4 linked regions of the Homo sapiens genome follow. The protein of the gene in region 1 purifies or fractionates together with the protein of each later gene. This does not show direct contact. Each region holds a gene or a part of one and is shown on either strand. Other genes may lie near its edges.

The links.
Region 2: the proteins of DDX50 (region 1) and DHX57 purify together in Homo sapiens (affinity purification with mass spectrometry; one large-scale study listed by BioGRID and IntAct). This does not show direct contact.
Region 3: the proteins of DDX50 (region 1) and ZNF638 purify together in Homo sapiens (affinity purification with mass spectrometry; one large-scale study listed by BioGRID and IntAct). This does not show direct contact.
Region 4: the proteins of DDX50 (region 1) and GID4 purify together in Homo sapiens (affinity purification with mass spectrometry; one large-scale study listed by BioGRID and IntAct). This does not show direct contact.

Annotation. Positions count from the first base shown.
Region 1 is NC_000010.11:68,932,315-68,935,814, forward strand, and holds part of DDX50 (ATP-dependent RNA helicase DDX50), read left to right. Parts: intron 1-1,884; coding exon 1,885-2,046; intron 2,047-2,484; coding exon 2,485-2,604; intron 2,605-3,500. UniProt on the Homo sapiens protein: ATP-dependent RNA helicase that may play a role in various aspects of RNA metabolism including pre-mRNA splicing or ribosomal RNA production.
Region 2 is NC_000002.12:38,862,377-38,866,870, forward strand, and holds part of DHX57 (putative ATP-dependent RNA helicase DHX57), read right to left. Parts: intron 1,144-4,494; coding exon 985-1,143; intron 1-984. UniProt on the Homo sapiens protein: Probable ATP-binding RNA helicase.
Region 3 is NC_000002.12:71,347,846-71,352,339, forward strand, and holds part of ZNF638 (zinc finger protein 638), read left to right. Parts: intron 1-581; exon of another isoform or gene 582-907; 5' UTR 908-1,109; coding exon 1,110-2,426; intron 2,427-4,494.
Region 4 is NC_000017.11:18,051,972-18,056,465, forward strand, and holds part of GID4 (glucose-induced degradation protein 4 homolog), read left to right. Parts: intron 1-2,155; coding exon 2,156-2,263; intron 2,264-4,494.

The DNA of each region.
Region 1 (3,500 bases):
AGTGGAGCGATTACGGCTCACTGCAACTTTTACCTCCTGGGTTCAAATGATTCTCCTGCCTTAACCTCTCGAGTAGCTGGGATTACAGGCATGCACCACCATACCTGGCTAATCTTTGTATTTTTAGTAGAGATGAGGTTTCACCATGTTGGCCAGGCTGGTCTTGAACTCCTGACTTCAAGTGATCCACCCACGTCAGCCTCCCAAAGTGCTGGGATTACAGGCATGAGCCACTGAGCCTGGCCTGATCATTGTTATGAACTTTTTGACTTTAATATAGTGGCCAGGAATACTAGGAAGTGTATTTATAATACCAGGAAATTTGCAGCAGAGATGAAGATCTACCTAATATAAATAGGTTCAGTGTCACTAATGCAGCAGAGATGAAGATCTACCTAATATAAATAGGTTCAGTGTCACTAAAAATTACAGACATGTAAATTAAAACAACATTGGGAAATTATTTTTGCCTATTAAATTCACAAAGATTACAATGATTTATAATATACACAAGCTGGGTAGGGTATGTTGAAATAAATACTCATAGAGTATTGAAGAATAAAAGGTACACAACTTTTTTTATAATACAGTTTTTTAAATAATACAGTTTCTGTTAAAATGCTACATGTTCATAATTTTTGACCCAGAAATTCAACTTCTAGATATGTATCCTACTGAAATATACAGATACTGAGGCATCCAGAGATACAAGTACAAAGTTACAAAGTTGTTCATTGCAACATTGTTTGTTTGTTTGTTTTTTTTTTTTTTGAGATGAAGCTTCACTCTTGTCCCCCAGGCTGGAGTGCAATGGCACGATCTCAGCTCACTGCAACCTCCACCTCCCGGGTTCAAGCTATTCTCCTGTCTCAGCCTCCCAAGTAGCTGGAATTACAGGTGCCTGTCACTGCGCCTAGCTAATTTTTTGTATTTTTAGTAGAGACAGAGTTTCACCATGTTGGCCAGGCTGGTCTCAAACTCCTGACCTCGGGTGATCTGCCTGTCTCGGCCTCCCAGAGTGCTGGGATTACAGGTGTGAGCCACCATGCCCGGCCCATTGCAGCATTGTTTCTAAAGGTGAAAATGTGAATACAGCCCAAAAGTTCATCAGTAGGATATTGCTAAAATAGATGCTGGTGCATCCATATGAATAAATTATATACAGTTTAAAAAAATTAAGTAGCATTTTATCTATAGATGTGGATAGCTAAGATACACTAAATTTATCAAGTAGGTTACAAAACCCTACCTATGTAATATCCACGTTATAAATAAATACATAAAGTCATAGTATATGCTAGTGTAATGTGAGTATGTGTGTATTAAAAAAAAAAAGTGGCCGGGTGTGGTGGCTCACGCCTGTAATCCCAGCACTTTGGGAGGCAGAGGCTGGCGGATCACCTGAGGTCAGCGAGTTCAAGACCAGCCTGATCAACATGGTGAAACCCTGTTTCTACTAAAAATACAAAAATTAGCTGGGCATAGTGGCAGGCACCTGTAATCCCAGCTACTCGGGAGGCTGAGGTAGGAGAATCGCTTGAACCTGGGAGGTAGAGGTTGCAGTGAGCCAAGATCGCTCCATTGCACTCCAGCCTGGGCAATAAGAGCAAAACTCTGTCTAAAAAAAAAAAAAAATCTGACAGAATATTTACCAAACTCTTAGCAGTGAATTATTTCTAAGTCACTAGTATTAGGGAAGCTTTTACATTTTATGTTAAATATTTTCTGTCATGTTTGACTTTTTTTTTTTACAGTAAGCATGCATTGTTAAAATCATCAAAGTAAGATTTAAAAACATGCAAAAGGAGCACAGACTAGATGTTGTTGTGCTATCAGTTGCAAGTATGAGCTGTACACTTAATTTTCTCCCCCTTTCTCAAATAGAATGCCCAGTGTTTACATGGGGACATTGCACAGTCACAAAGAGAAATTACACTAAAAGGCTTCAGAGAAGGTAGTTTTAAAGTTTTGGTGGCAACCAATGTGGCTGCCCGTGGTTTGGACATTCCTGAAGTTGACCTGGTGATTCAAAGTTCTCCTCCTCAGGTAGGAAATGGGATTTGATTTGGGAAAAATAAGAGCAATTTTATAAATTCCCATTTAATTTACAACATATTGCTTGGGATGTGAAAAATATGTCATCTCTTCTTGCTCTTAGCCATTTTTTGTTAGTGTGCTATTAAATTTATCAGATTCTGATACTTTTGCAGATGATTAACTCTATTGTTTGTATTTGAAGCATGGAGCAACAAAATCAGGCAGAGAATTACAAAAAGTTGCCATAAAGAAACCTGGGATGAGGTGGATTAAAAGGTTTTAAATCATATTGCCTTTACCCCAAAATCCACACATATAAATTGTTTGGAATGTTGAAAAGGGCAACAGGATTGAAATAAATATATTATTATTAACATTATTATTTGGATTCCGGAATGACTGCAACTTGCTAGATTTTTAAAAAATATTACCTTTTATAATCTTTAGGATGTTGAGTCCTATATCCATCGCTCTGGACGCACAGGTAGAGCTGGACGGACAGGGATTTGTATATGTTTTTATCAACCAAGAGAAAGAGGTCAACTAAGATATGTGGAACAAAAAGCAGTAAGTAGAGTTAAATTATTTCAGGCTTATTGTCTAAATGGTGCCTTAAAAGAGAGCTCTTCTTATATTTATTCTTACAAGTAGGTCTTCATAACTTTTCTCAGTTTAAGCTGCATTTGGCTGTGAAGCCTGTGGAGATCTAAATTTATATTAGCTTCAAGACTTTAATACAGCTTTTATTGTGAAGACAGTGGAGCTGACTTTCTCATCTTTTCCTTGAATTTCTCTCTTCATACTAAAATCAGAAGTGCATTGTGATTTCAGTACTTCTTAGTGTAAATGGGTGACTAAAAGATTGTCTTGGTATAATAGTTAAGATTCTTTTAAGTATGGTACAATAGACAGTTTCTAAAGAAACTGTACATTTTCTGTGGTCTGGATTTTTTGTGGTATTTCACATTTTTTCCTATTTTTATATGTGTTTTTATATGCAATTTCATATACTTTGTAAAATGAGATAGTGTAATAAGGAAAAAAGCTGATAGATTTAAACATCTGTTTTGTTTTGTTTTTTTTTCAAATCAGGCTTGTTTTACAAGTGAAATTCCATGATTGTAACTAAGGGGCAATTCAAAAAATTATTTTTCTCTTTCTGAAATTTGTAATTGATGATTTATGAGAAAAAAAAGATCTTGGCTGGGTGCAGTCACTCACGCCTGTAATCCCAGCACTTTGGGAGGCGGAGATGGGCAGATCACTTGAGGTCAGGAGTTTGAGACCAGCCTGCCCAACATGGTGAAACCCCATCTCTACTAAAAATACCAAAATTAGCTGGGCATGGTGGTAGACACCTGTAATCCCAGCTACTATGGAGGCTGAGGCAGGAGAATTGCTTGAGCCCAGGAGGTGGAGGTTGCAGTGAGCCAAGATCACGCCACTGCACTCCAGCCTGGGCA
Region 2 (4,494 bases), on another chromosome or scaffold:
TTACTTCAAAGAAAAATTTAGCAAAGGTCTAAGAATTTAATTCATAGGATCCTGACTACTCTTCAGTTGCTGATTTAATCTTATATTGAACTATTAATTTATATCTTGGCAATTAACATTTACCAGGCATTTATTAAATACCAGTTACTGTGTTAAGTGCTTTATATGAACTAACTCCTTTAATCTTCCCAATAACTGTACCAAATACTACTGGAATGTCCTTTTTTTTTTTTTTTTCTAGATGATCAACTAAAACTCAGAGAGGATTAGTAACTGCCTAGGTTACACATTAAGGAGCAAATAGAGATTTTGCCAAAGGCAGACAGATTCCTGTGTTCTTAACCACAGAAACCTTGGCTATTCTCTCTCTTCTCATTCATAAAAACACTATCCCTAATTGTTTGTTTTGCTACATAATCTCCCTTTCTAAATCTAAAACAGATAAGAGATTTGTAGATAGGATGGAAAATGAGCTGTTCATGACTGGCCACTAATTAATTTTGGTAAATGGAAAGAAGGAATTAACTTCTCCAACTGAAATCCAAAGCAAAAGAGCCGAAATGCAGTAGAGTGGGAAACGAATAAGATTTAAGAGTAAAAGCTTTCTCTTAGGCAGACAGTCATGACAAGCAAATCCTAAGACTGCACCTGACCGAGTCAATATTTGCTCATTCAACACTACTTCTACTTGTTCATTACAAGGGTTTATCTGGAAGGTTACAGATAAATCAGTTACTGAATCCATATGAGCACTGCCCTGGAAAAAAATAAAGATAAAAAGGCAATCCCATGGATGTTGCAAAACAAACTCACTCTAAAATTGTGGCTGAATAATTATTCTTGTATTACTCTTGGCTCACTTTCAACTAATTAAATGGCCACAATAGAATCAGTACTGACACAGCATTCCAAAGATGCACAGGACCTTCACACTGCCAGTATGTTTTCCTTAATATAATAATTGACTCAAATAAAACAATTTACTCAGATCCAGCATCAGCATCTTGTTCTTGCAGGTCTCGGAGAAGAGCTTTCACTTTCTCTTGATTCTCAGAAGTCATATGTAGAGTCTGAAGGGGTACTTTGGCTTTGGGTTTCCATTTTGGGCGTGACTCTCCTTTGCTTATGTTACTGTTGCTAGGTCTATAGAGAACAAAAGAGCAAAATTACACACATATCTTCAATCAGAACTTTTACACTCTCCTCAGGGGTCCCCAGATATACACAATACAAACTGGATTGTCAAGTATCTTACAAAAGATGACAATGAATGTGAGGAGATTCTCCATTTTCTATAGTATTTACCAGACTTCATTATATCAGACCTGCTGGAAAAAAACCTTATCAGATTCTTGGCCAGGCGCAGTGGCTCACGCCTGTAATCCTGGCACTTTGGGAGGCCGAGGCTGGCGGATCACCTGAGGTCAGGAGTTTCAGACCAGCCTGGCCAACATGGTGAAATGCTGTCTCTACTAAAAATACAAAAATTATCTGGGCGTGGCAGTGCGCTCCTGTAATCCTAGCTACTCAGGAGGCTGAGGCAGGAGAATCACTTGAACTTGGAGGTAGAGGTTGCAGTAAGCCAAGATTGTGCCACTGCACTACAGCCTGGGCAACAGAGCGAGATTCCGTTTAAAAAAAAAAAAAACAACAAAACTTAACAGATTCTTAATCATTAATTCTGGCTTCACTAACTCAAGAATCCTTAGGAAAAAGCAATGCTAATGATGGTTTCCTCTGCACTATAGGACATGAAGAGCATTTCATTTCATTCTGCATTAAAATCTGAAAACCACTGAGTTTCATTCTTCCTTGTGAATATTAAGGCCCCATTTCTAAAATACCCAATTATCTTTATTTCTGATTATTAAAAAAAAAAAAAAAAAGGCCAGGGGCATTGGCTCACACCTGTAATTCCAGCACTTTAAGAGGCTGAAGTGGTAGGATTGCTTAAGCCCCAGGAGTTCGAGACCAGCCTGGGCAATATAGCAAGATCCTGTCTCTATTTAAAAAAAAAGAAATAAAAAAATTACACAGCATATATAATCTCTTATGATTTGTCTGATCATTAGGAAATGATCAGTTAAACATGAGGGGGAGTTGGGAGTTTCACATGCTCCTATCTTAAAGTCATCCTTTATCTTAAAGTCAGCCTTTCTATTTGTAAACTATATGCCAATCTCTTTAATCTCCTCAAGGAAATCATTCCAGCACTTATCCCCCTTTCTAAATCACTGGTTTTTCATTCTTCTTTGGATCATTCCCATCAGCATACAGACATACTATAAGGTCTACCCTCTTAAAAAAATGAAACCAAGCCAAATCCTCCCTTGAGTGCACATCTCCCTGTAGCTACTGACCCATCTCTCCTCCCTCTAGCTCCCTTATAGTAAAACTTCTCATTTAGGTTATCAAAATCATTGTCTCTGTCTCCATTTTCTTTCCTCTTCTCTCTGAAACACAACCCAATCAGTATTTCCTATGCTACTACAGCTCTTGTCAAGGTTAACCATGATACCCACATTGTCAAATGCAGTGGACAATTCTTAGTGCACATTTTCCTTGACCTACCAGAAGCATTTTTCCACAAATGTGTACCCTCTTTAAGCATACAATTCGATCTTATTGGCTACTCTCCTTTAAAACACCTTTGTCCCTTGGCTTCCAAAAACCACTCTCTTAGTTTCCTACTTCATTGGCAGCTCCTTCTCAATCCCCTTTGTTTTTCATACTTTCTCTTAGCTTTATTTATTTTTTAACTAAAAATTTTTATTGACACATAATAATTGTACATTCTTTATACGGTTGATAATGGTTTGGCTGCAAGTCAAATCTCATCTTCAATTGAAGTTCCCATAATCCCCACATGTTATGGGAGGGAACCGGTTGGAGGTAGTTGAATCATGGGGGCAGTCTCCCCCATGCTATTCTCGTGATAGTGAGTAACTTCTCACGAGATCTGATGGTTTTATAAGGGGTGTCCCCCTTTACTTGGCTCTCATTCTTCTTTCTCCTGCCACCTTGTGAAGAAGGATGCTTTTGCTTCCCCTTTCAGCATGATTGTAAGTTTCCTGAGGCCACCCCAGCCCTGTGGTACTGTGAGTCAATTAAACCTCTTTCCTTTATAAATTACTCAGTCTTGGGTATGTCCTTATAGCAGCGTGAGAATGGACTAATACAGGGGTACATGTGCTATTTTGATACATGCATACAATGTGTAGTGATCAAATCAGGGTAATTAGGATATCTAACACCTCACACATTTATCATTTCTTTGTGTTGGGAACATTCCAAATTCTCTTAGCTTTAAAACCTAGAGTGTCCCAGGGCTCAAACATCAGATACCTTCTCTATTCGATTTTATCCAGACTCAGAACTTTAGCATTTATCTATAGAAGACTCACACATTTACATCTCCAGCCTAGATCTTTTTCTTGAACCTCAGATTTATATATTAAATTATCTATTTTATATCTACACTTGGAGAACATCTCCTAACTGGTCTCCTTGCTTTCAACTCATGCCCCTTTATAGTTTATTCTCTACAAAGCACACCCAGTCAATGCTATTGAGTATAGATTCATAGACTGTACACTGCACAAAGGTTCCTGGCTGGGAGGGAAGAAGAGGGAGGAAGGGACAGCAAAATCCGGTCCATGTTCTGCTGGCTAAGCCATGATCCTGGTGTGGGGCTATAACTGTCCAAAGGAAGGAGCACCATTTTCTAATTCACATAAAGGCATACACTGAATAGAAACAACTCTGGCCAGACTGACTGATAATATCACACACCCTTGCCTCAAACCCTCCAAAGGCCTTCTGTCTTACTTCATGTAAAAGCCAAAGTCCTAATAATGGCCCATGAAGTCCTATACAGTCTGGTCTTTCTGATCTAATTGCCTACCACTTGCCTTCTTGCCCACTCATTCTAGCCACATGGTTCTTTGCTATTTCCTAAACCTTCCAAGCACATTCTTGCCTTAAGAAATTGCTCTTCCCTCTGCCTTGAATGCTGTACTCAGAACTTCACAGCTTATTCCTTTACTTACTTCTTGCCTCTCTTCACGTGATACCTTATTAGGGGGGCTTTCTACATAAATTAACAATTCTATTTTGGTATTTTATATCCCTGTTACACTCCTTTATTTCTCTCCATAGCATGCGGCACCTGGTAATGTTATACATTTGTTTATGGTTTTTCTATCTCAAATCCCATTCTATCTAGATAAGGACAATATTTTACTCCCTGCTGCAATTCCAAGTCCCTAAAACAGTGCCTGGTGCATGGTAGGCATTCAGTAAATACTTACCAAATGAATGAACATCTACGGACTCCAAGAACCTATAATGTCCATGTTTTGAAAAACTATGGAGCTGCAGCTAACTCAGAAGTTAGGTTCTTGGCTAGGCACAGTGGCTCACGCCTGTAATTCCAACACTATGGGAGGCCAAGGCAGGAGAATCGCTTGAGCCCAGGAGTTCAAGACCAGCCTG
Region 3 (4,494 bases), on another chromosome or scaffold:
GGACCAGATAACCTTGAATACAAATCTCAGCACAGTCACTTTTCTTTGTAAGTTACTTTACCTGTGTGTGCCTTAGTGTCTTCCTCTGTAAAACTGTACATATCTCAGGACTGTTGTGAGCATCAAATGACCCATTCCATTTAAAGTTCATAGAACGCTGACTGACACGTGGACAGTGCTCTATATAGTTAATCATTATTGTCATCCATATATATTCGTCCATACTGCGTCTATGGATGGAATCCAAGGGAAGGGTTACTGGTTTTGTTATGTATTATGTTCTATGTTATAACGAATTCCATGCCATTGCATACTGTTTTCTTAGACTCTGTAGTCAGGTTATTGGCAACAAATTTTTATCTTACAAGAAACAACTATTTAATAATAGGAACATAAGTGTAGTTTAATTGCCCTATGGGATTTATTAGATGTCAAGGCTGATTCCAAGGAAGATTGTGTTTTACAAAAATGGGTCTTTTAGGCTTACAGTTCTTACTTTCATTATTTGTATATCTGATAACATGCGTATTAAATGTGTGCATTTATAAGTATTTTAATGCCTTCATCTTTTTTTTCCCCAGTATTACAGCGTGAAATAAATTCCCAGTATTTTTCAAGATTATGTAAAAGGAGTTGTAATTACTGCTCAGCACCTAGGACAGCACCCAGTGCAACACAATGTACATGAACTCTGGCTTGAGGTTTGGGGCTTGTGTTCTGCATTCAGGAAAGAAAAGAAGAGAAAGTTTTTGGGAAATTTAAATCTTCGTAAGCCCTTACTCTAAAAGTATATGAAATGCAGAATGGTTTCATGGCTTTATTTCAAAATGTTTTACACTGGCTGTAGAACCCACTTCATGAAGTAGTTTGAGTTAAAATGATCTAATATTTGTGTTTTAACTTTCAGCTTTGTGTTATTCTTGGAAAATTTCGCACCACTTGTGAATTCCTTGAACCTGGGCATTGCAAACCCACTTCTGTTGGGCCCATCTCCTTTGCACTTTGCTCAGATTAAGACTCAGTTGGCGCTTCAGCAGCTGAATGCCGTTGCCTCACATGGTTCAACACCACCTTATACTTTATTAAATCAGGCTTTCTTGAAAATAGCCATGTCGAGACCCAGGTTTAATCCTCGAGGAGACTTTCCACTTCAAAGGCCACGAGCACCTAACCCTTCTGGGATGAGGCCTCCAGGACCATTTATGAGGCCTGGATCTATGGGTCTCCCAAGATTTTACCCAGCAGGGAGAGCACGTGGAATTCCACACAGATTTGCTGGCCATGAATCTTATCAGAACATGGGGCCACAGAGAATGAATGTTCAGGTAACTCAACACAGAACTGATCCAAGATTGACCAAAGAAAAACTGGATTTTCATGAAGCACAACAGAAGAAGGGGAAGCCTCATGGTAGCCGGTGGGATGATGAGCCTCATATATCTGCATCAGTGGCAGTGAAACAGAGTTCTGTAACACAGGTTACAGAGCAGAGTCCCAAAGTACAGAGCCGCTATACAAAAGAGAGTGCCTCAAGTATCTTAGCAAGTTTTGGATTATCTAATGAAGACCTAGAAGAACTTAGTCGCTATCCTGATGAACAACTAACTCCTGAAAATATGCCATTAATTTTGAGGGATATAAGAATGCGAAAAATGGGGCGCCGATTACCTAATTTACCTTCTCAGAGCAGAAATAAAGAAACACTTGGTAGTGAAGCAGTTTCAAGTAATGTGATCGATTATGGGCATGCAAGCAAATATGGCTACACAGAAGATCCACTTGAAGTACGTATTTATGATCCTGAAATTCCAACTGATGAGGTCGAGAATGAATTTCAGTCACAGCAGAACATTTCTGCATCTGTTCCCAATCCAAATGTGATATGTAATTCTATGTTTCCTGTTGAAGACGTATTTCGCCAAATGGACTTCCCCGGTGAGTCCTCCAATAATCGGTCCTTTTTCTCAGTTGAGAGTGGAACCAAGATGTCAGGCTTACACATTTCAGGAGGACAGTCAGTCCTTGAACCCATAAAATCCGTCAACCAATCCATTAACCAAACAGTTAGCCAGACAATGAGTCAATCTCTGATTCCTCCATCTATGAACCAGCAACCTTTTTCGTCGGAATTAATTTCATCTGTAAGCCAGCAAGAGCGGATCCCACATGAACCTGTGATTAATTCATCTAACGTACATGTTGGATCAAGAGGAAGTAAAAAGAATTACCAGTCACAGGCTGACATTCCCATTCGGTCTCCCTTTGGTATTGTGAAAGCATCCTGGCTACCAAAGTTTTCACATGCTGATGCCCAGAAGATGAAGAGACTTCCAACTCCTTCTATGATGAATGATTATTATGCAGCATCTCCAAGAATATTTCCACATTTGTGTTCTCTGTGTAACGTAGAATGTAGTCATTTGAAGGTGAGTGTTTTTAAAAAAAGATCACTGTATAATGATGCTCAGCGCCAGTTTTCTCTAAATTCTGATATGTATGCTGCTTGTTAACTAGGCGTTAAGGAAATGGCAGAAGGTAATTTTAATTGCAACCTCAATACATAGTTGTAATCTTAAGTAGCCCTGGCCTTAGTACTGAATTGAATTTTAGGCTTACTGTATTCCTATGACCGGGCACACCATATTTTAGTAGTGTGTCCATTTATTTTGAACTTTTAGTTATCCCACTTACGCAACATAAAATTTATGTAACATAAGCTGCGTACTTACAAGACAATGTCACATGGAATCACCTTTCTCTAAAAGGATCTGTTAGTATAAAAATACAAAGAGATGGTATAACCCATTTGTAATGCACACATTTAAGAGACAGTATATTATAGCCTTGCACATATACACCTGTCTTGGGATAAAGACAATTAATGTTGATTTAAATATTTCCTGACTTTATGTAGACTAGTGATTTTTAGTATTTTTTGAGAAGAAGCTTTCTAAAATAACTTCATAGCAAAAATAAGTCAAGGTGCAGTAATTATTCTGGGACCAGCTGTGGACTCAGAAAATAGTGTAAAATGATAGAAATTTGTAGAGAAAAATCTTTAAAAAATAAAGATGATTTAGGTAGTTTGATAGTATAGTTAGAAGGAAGTATTTTGCAGAGGCAGTGAAGTGTACTATAATGTAGAACATACTGTTCAGTCGTAATCATTGGTAGATTTGAGCAGGAATTTCCAAGTAAATTTTATTTACTTACGTATGGTTGGCAATCACTGTTTCTTCTATTTACTAATGTGATTTATAGATTTAGATTGTAAAGGGTCAGAAGAGAATATACTAACATGGGAAAAAGCTTTGATTCAAGGCCATGGCCTGGAATTGGTTGTATACTTAGGCTTAAAAATCTGTGTGTTAACGCTCTTGTTCTTTTCTTCCAGTGCTGCCTTTCGATTTTCTTTTCATTATTTACTCACTAGGTTTTCGTCAACATGAATCTGATAATTAGATCTGTTGGTATTTTCTTAAGGTTAACTCCAGCAAAAGAAAGCAGCATTCTACCCCATTTTAGCCAGATGTGCCAAATTCTATTAAAATAATAGTTGCCTTATTCCATCAGAAGGGATAGCAAAGTCCTTACAAGGGAAAGTCTTAGAATAATTCATATCACCTAATTGTAATCTGTAAGTAGCCCTGGCCTAAGTAGTGAATTGAGTGTTTGTCTGTATTCTTGTGACTGGGCATACCACATAATTTTTTTTAATTGATTTTGAACTTTTAATTAATCATAATGAATCCAAGAAAATACATCTTTAAATAAAGAACTTGAAGTTTTGTATTCTGTAGAGTAGAAAAGGTGTACATTTAATTTAGTATGTACTTATGGATACCAGTTTTGTACTTGACTCCAATTAGGTACTGGGGCAGAAATGAGGAACTGTGTAAAATTTTAGATGTTATTAAGCAGTTTATTCAGTCTTATTGGGGAGAAAAATTATGCTCCCAAGACATTTAAAACAATTAGAAGACAACAAGTGGTTTTGTGATTGATTTAACTTGTTTGGATATGCTGTAGGGGACAGAGATTTCTGTCTTGATTTCAGGCATGTATCACTCAGGCCAGCATCATCAATTTACCAATTTAATCATTACCAATTTGCCAATTTAATTATTTTAACTATTGTATTTGTAACAGTATGTGTTTAAAAATAAGTATAAATATGCATCCTGACATCAAAAGACTTTTATAGCCTAGTTAGACTAATGGAATGTCAGTTACTAAATGCACTAAGTCTGTCTTGACTAGAATGATGTGGGAGAGAAGACTTCATGGAGTAGGTTGAAGATGGGTCTTGAATTGAGGCTTTAGATATGCCTGTATAAAGAGGAGGAGGGGGCCGGGCACAGTGGCTCACTGCCTGTAATCCCAGCACTTTGGGAGGCCGAGACAGGTGGATCACCTGAGGTCAGGAGTTCAAGACCACCCTTACTGACATGGTGAAATCCTGTCTCTACTAAAAATACAAGAATTAGCCGGGTG
Region 4 (4,494 bases), on another chromosome or scaffold:
GCTGAGGCAGGAGAATCACCTGAACCCGGGAGGCAGAGGTTGCAGTGAGCCGAGATCGTGCCACTGCATTCCGGTCTGGGCGACAGAGCAAGACTCTGTCCCTCCCCCCAAAAAAAAAAAAAAAAGTTAGCTTATACCTTAAAAATTAGGTTTACATTTAGGAAAATTTCTCCTCTCTCATTTTTTCAGTCTATGTATTTAAATATTTATGTGAAGAATCCAGCAACAGTGTTAGGATAGGGGGGTTGTGGGTTTGGGGCAGTATTAGATTTATCATATTTTAAGTTCACTGTTAAGGAAACAGATCCCCTCCATGGTGTCATCCTAAAGCAGGCCTCCTGAGCCACCTGCAGCGGTGGTGACGTTCTGTTTCCTGGGAGCCTCTGCACCAGTGGCTTTTACTGTGGCAGCCTCTCTCAGGAAGGTCCTACACTACATGCAGGCCAGGTTGGTAGATGTGGCAAAGCCATCAGAATGAGGTTTTTGATGCAGAATAAGAGGGGCTTACATCTGATCTGAAGGAAAAACGTGGGCCTTCTGCAGTCCTTGATGTTAGGACTGTAATCTGTGGTTTTCCAGGCCAGTGACTCTCATAACCATGCTCCTGGCAGACACCAGGGGCTTGGCAAGGTAGCCTGAGAGGTGGGTGCTTGGTTGGTTTCTACAAATGCAGAGAAATGTAGACTTTTTACGGTGTTAACTTTTTGTCTTATTAATCTTTTTTAAAATCATTGGTGCCTACTTATTAACACATGAACAAAGAGCAATTAACAAAGCACCCAAGCCAGCACATGGCTTCTTGCTTACGTTTTCCACGGTGTGGTTTTTACATTCAGACATGATTTACATATGTTTTTCCTCATATAAATTGTTTTTAGTTCATATGTTTTTCCTCATATAAGTTGTTCTTAGTTCATGTGACAGAATTAAACGTATCCCTATGTATCAAGGTATTCTAAGACTACCTTCAGGGACCATTTGTATAGTTCATTACTAGAAGTTTCTCTGAACATGTAGAACACTGAAAAAAGTATTTACTTTTTTTTTTTTTTTTTTTTTTTGAGACAGAGTTTCACTCTTATTGCCCAGGCTGGAGTGCAATGGCGTGATCTCGGCTTACTGCAAACTCCGCCTCCAGGTTCAAGCAATCTCCTGCCTCAGCCTCCCGAGTAGGTGGGATTACAGGCATGCGCCACCACGCCCGGCTAATTTTGTATTTTTAGTAGAGATGAGGTTTCTCCATGTTGGTCAGGTTGGTCTTGAACTCCTGACCTCAGGTGATCCTCCCACCTCGGCCTCCCAAAGTGCTGGGATTACAGGCGTGAGCCACCATGCCTGGCCAAAATAAAAGGTATTTTAGGCTGGGTGCGGTGGCTCACACCTGTAATCCTCGCACTTTGGGAGGCCAAGGCGGGTGGATCACCTGAGGTCAGGAGTTCGAGACCAGCCTGGCCAACATGGCGAAACCCCGTCTCTACTAAAAATACAAACATTAGGTGGGCGTGGTGGCAGCCAACTGTAATCCCAACTACTCGGGAGGCTGAGGTAGGAGAATCACATAAACCCAGGGTGTGGGAGGAGGTTGCAGTGAACCGAAATTGTGCCATTGCACTCCAGCCTGGGCGACAGAGCAAGACTCTGTCTCAGGAAAAATAAAAAAGTATTCTACCCCAGAATCCACCCTGGAACCTTGGAGAATTGGTGTAAAAGGGACAAATGACTGAGCCAGTTGGAGAACCAGTGGCTTGAGGGAGCCTTAGTGGTAGACACAGTGATTTTGGAGCCTCTTTGGGTCTAACCTTGGAAAGTAAAATCTACCAAGTTATGATCTGCTTTGTATGCTAGAATATTAAAAATTTATTTGTGGAAACATCCAAATTATTTTCTAAGAGACTAGCATGTAACAATTGAAGTCAAAGAAGGGCTGTCTGCTGCTGGCAAAATCCAGGAAACCCTTCATTCTCTGGGTGATTTAGATTCAGGTCCATTGCCACAGCCTGTTGGCAAACTGGCTGCGATCTAACTCTGGTTTGGATTGTCAGGTAGCAGTGTCTAGGTACTGGAAAGAAGTTAAAGCAAAGTTTATTTTTCCTTTGTACAAAGGTTAAAAACTCTCACTCAACATCTTATTTTGATATTTGGGTTTTTACCATAGGAGTATCCAACCCTTACAACCTTCTTCGAAGGAGAAATAATCAGCAAAAAACACCCTTTCTTAACTCGCAAGTGGGATGCAGATGAAGATGTTGATCGGAAACACTGGGTGAGTAAATCTGATCTGTGCTGGGTCATCTAGGGGCTGCTAGAGAATTGAAGAAATGCTGGGAGCCAGAGACCTTGTCCCTTATTGAGGATTACTGGGGCTTTGCAACCAAGTAAAAGGTTGCACTGCACACAGACCTCAGTTGTTCCATCTTCCTTATGAGGACAGTTTAAATACGATCTGACCTGCTGCTTAAATAGCAAATGGTTGTCTGATGATAGCAACCCCAGAGTTCCAGCCAGAACTCTGCTCAGCTATCAGAATCTTAACAGTGTCCCCCCATCCTTCCCACCTGTTTGTCCATCTTCTGTCCACTGTTCCTTTCAAATCACCTCTGCTTGGGGAAAACCCTGTGAAACATGCAATGATGACCTCCGGCTTCGGGGCTGGCATGAGATGGAGATGATGTTGTGGGAATCTGCCTGCCCACTGGCTTATCAGGGCAGAGCCACATCATTTCTTTTTATCCTGGCTGCTGACAGACAAGTATAGTCTTGTCTTAAGTACACCACTATAAATCCTGCTGCCCCCCTTTTTAACTGTCAAGTGTAGAGCATTCTCACTCAGCAGTAGTGAATGCTTCAAGACAGTTAGTGTCCTGGGATCTTTTCATTTGTTGTCATATAAGTACCATGTCTTCAAAAATCAGTGTCTCGGCTGGGCGCGTTGGCTTGCGCCTGTAATCCCAGCACTTTGGGAGGCCGAGGCGGGCGGATCACCAGGTCAGGAGATTGAGACCATCCTGGCTAACACGGTGAAACCTCGTCTCTACCAAAAATACAAAAAATTAGCTGGGCGTGGTGGTGGGCACCCGTAGTCCCAGCTACTCTGGAGGCTGAGGCAGGAGAATGGCGTGAACCCAGGAGGCGGAGCTTGCAGTGAGCCGAGATTGTGCCACTGCGCTCCAGCCTGAGCAACAGAGTGAGACTCCGTCTCAAAAAAAAAAAAAAAAAAATCATTTTCTCAACCTAATAGCCTTTTGCTTTAGTTGACCATGGTGATGGTGAATTTTTGTTTAACATTGAAGAAGTTCAATGGGTTTACCCTCCATAAACCAACCAGAAATGGCTGTGTCAGTAGCAAAGATTCTAGAACTCGTTCTTCCCATTGCCTCTCACACCTGGCTATCTAAACTCTCCCCTGGTTCTGGCACAGCAGTCTGTGGAGAGAACTCCCGCAGACCCTTGTCTTGAGTTCACCTCACTAGAGATCAGTTGCTTTGCTTACTAATGTTTTTTATTTGTTTATTTTATTTAAAAAAAATTTTTTTTAGAGTTGGGGTCTTGCTCTGTCGTCTATGCTGGAGTGCAGTGGCATGATTATAGCTCACTATAGCCTCAACCTCCTGGGCTCAAGTAATCCTCCCACCTCCGCGCCCCAAGTAGCTAGAACTACAGGCACGTGCCACCACACTGAGCTCATTTTCTTTTATTTTTGTAGAGACAGAGTCTCCCTATGTTACCCAGGCTGGTCTTGAACTCATGATCTTAAGTGATCCTCTTGCCTTGTCCTCCCAAAGTGCTGGGATTATAGGTGTGAGCCACTGACCCAACCTGTTTTTTTGGTTTTTCTTTTATGGGGGTTTTTGTTTTGTTTTGTTCTGTTTTGTTTGGTTTGGTTTTGAGACAGAGTCTCAGTCTGTCACCCAGGCTGGAGTGCAGTGGCGTAATCTCGGCTCACTGCAACCTCTGCTCACTGCAACCTCCGCCTCCCAGATTCAAGTGATTCTCATCTCTCAGCCTCTCAAGTAGCTGGGATTACAGACGTGCACCACCGTGCCTGGCTAATTTTTGTATTTTTAGTAGAGACAAGGTTTCGCCATGTTGGCCAGGCTGGTCTTGAACTCCAGGCCTCAAGTAATCCTCCTGCCTTGGCCTCCCAAAGTGCTGGGATTACAGGCGTGAGCCACCATGCCCAGCCCCAAGCTGTTTTTTACTTGAGTAAAAAAAGGAGATCTATCAAATACTGAGGTTCAGTTAAATTTAAATTTAAACTTGAGCTTTTTAAAGCGTTTTTTGAATTCTATACATTTTGATTGTTGTAGCAAATGGACACTAAAAACTAGACAGTCATTTGTGTCTCTCTGTGATACAAGAGAATGCACAAGACCTGAGTATCCAGAAGGTTGGGGGAGCCCAAGTGGTGTATGAAGGTGCTGGCCACCAGCAGGTGGAGTTGGAAGGGCTCCCTAGTACCATCTGCGCCCACCCCTGCCCAGGGCTAGGCTCTTC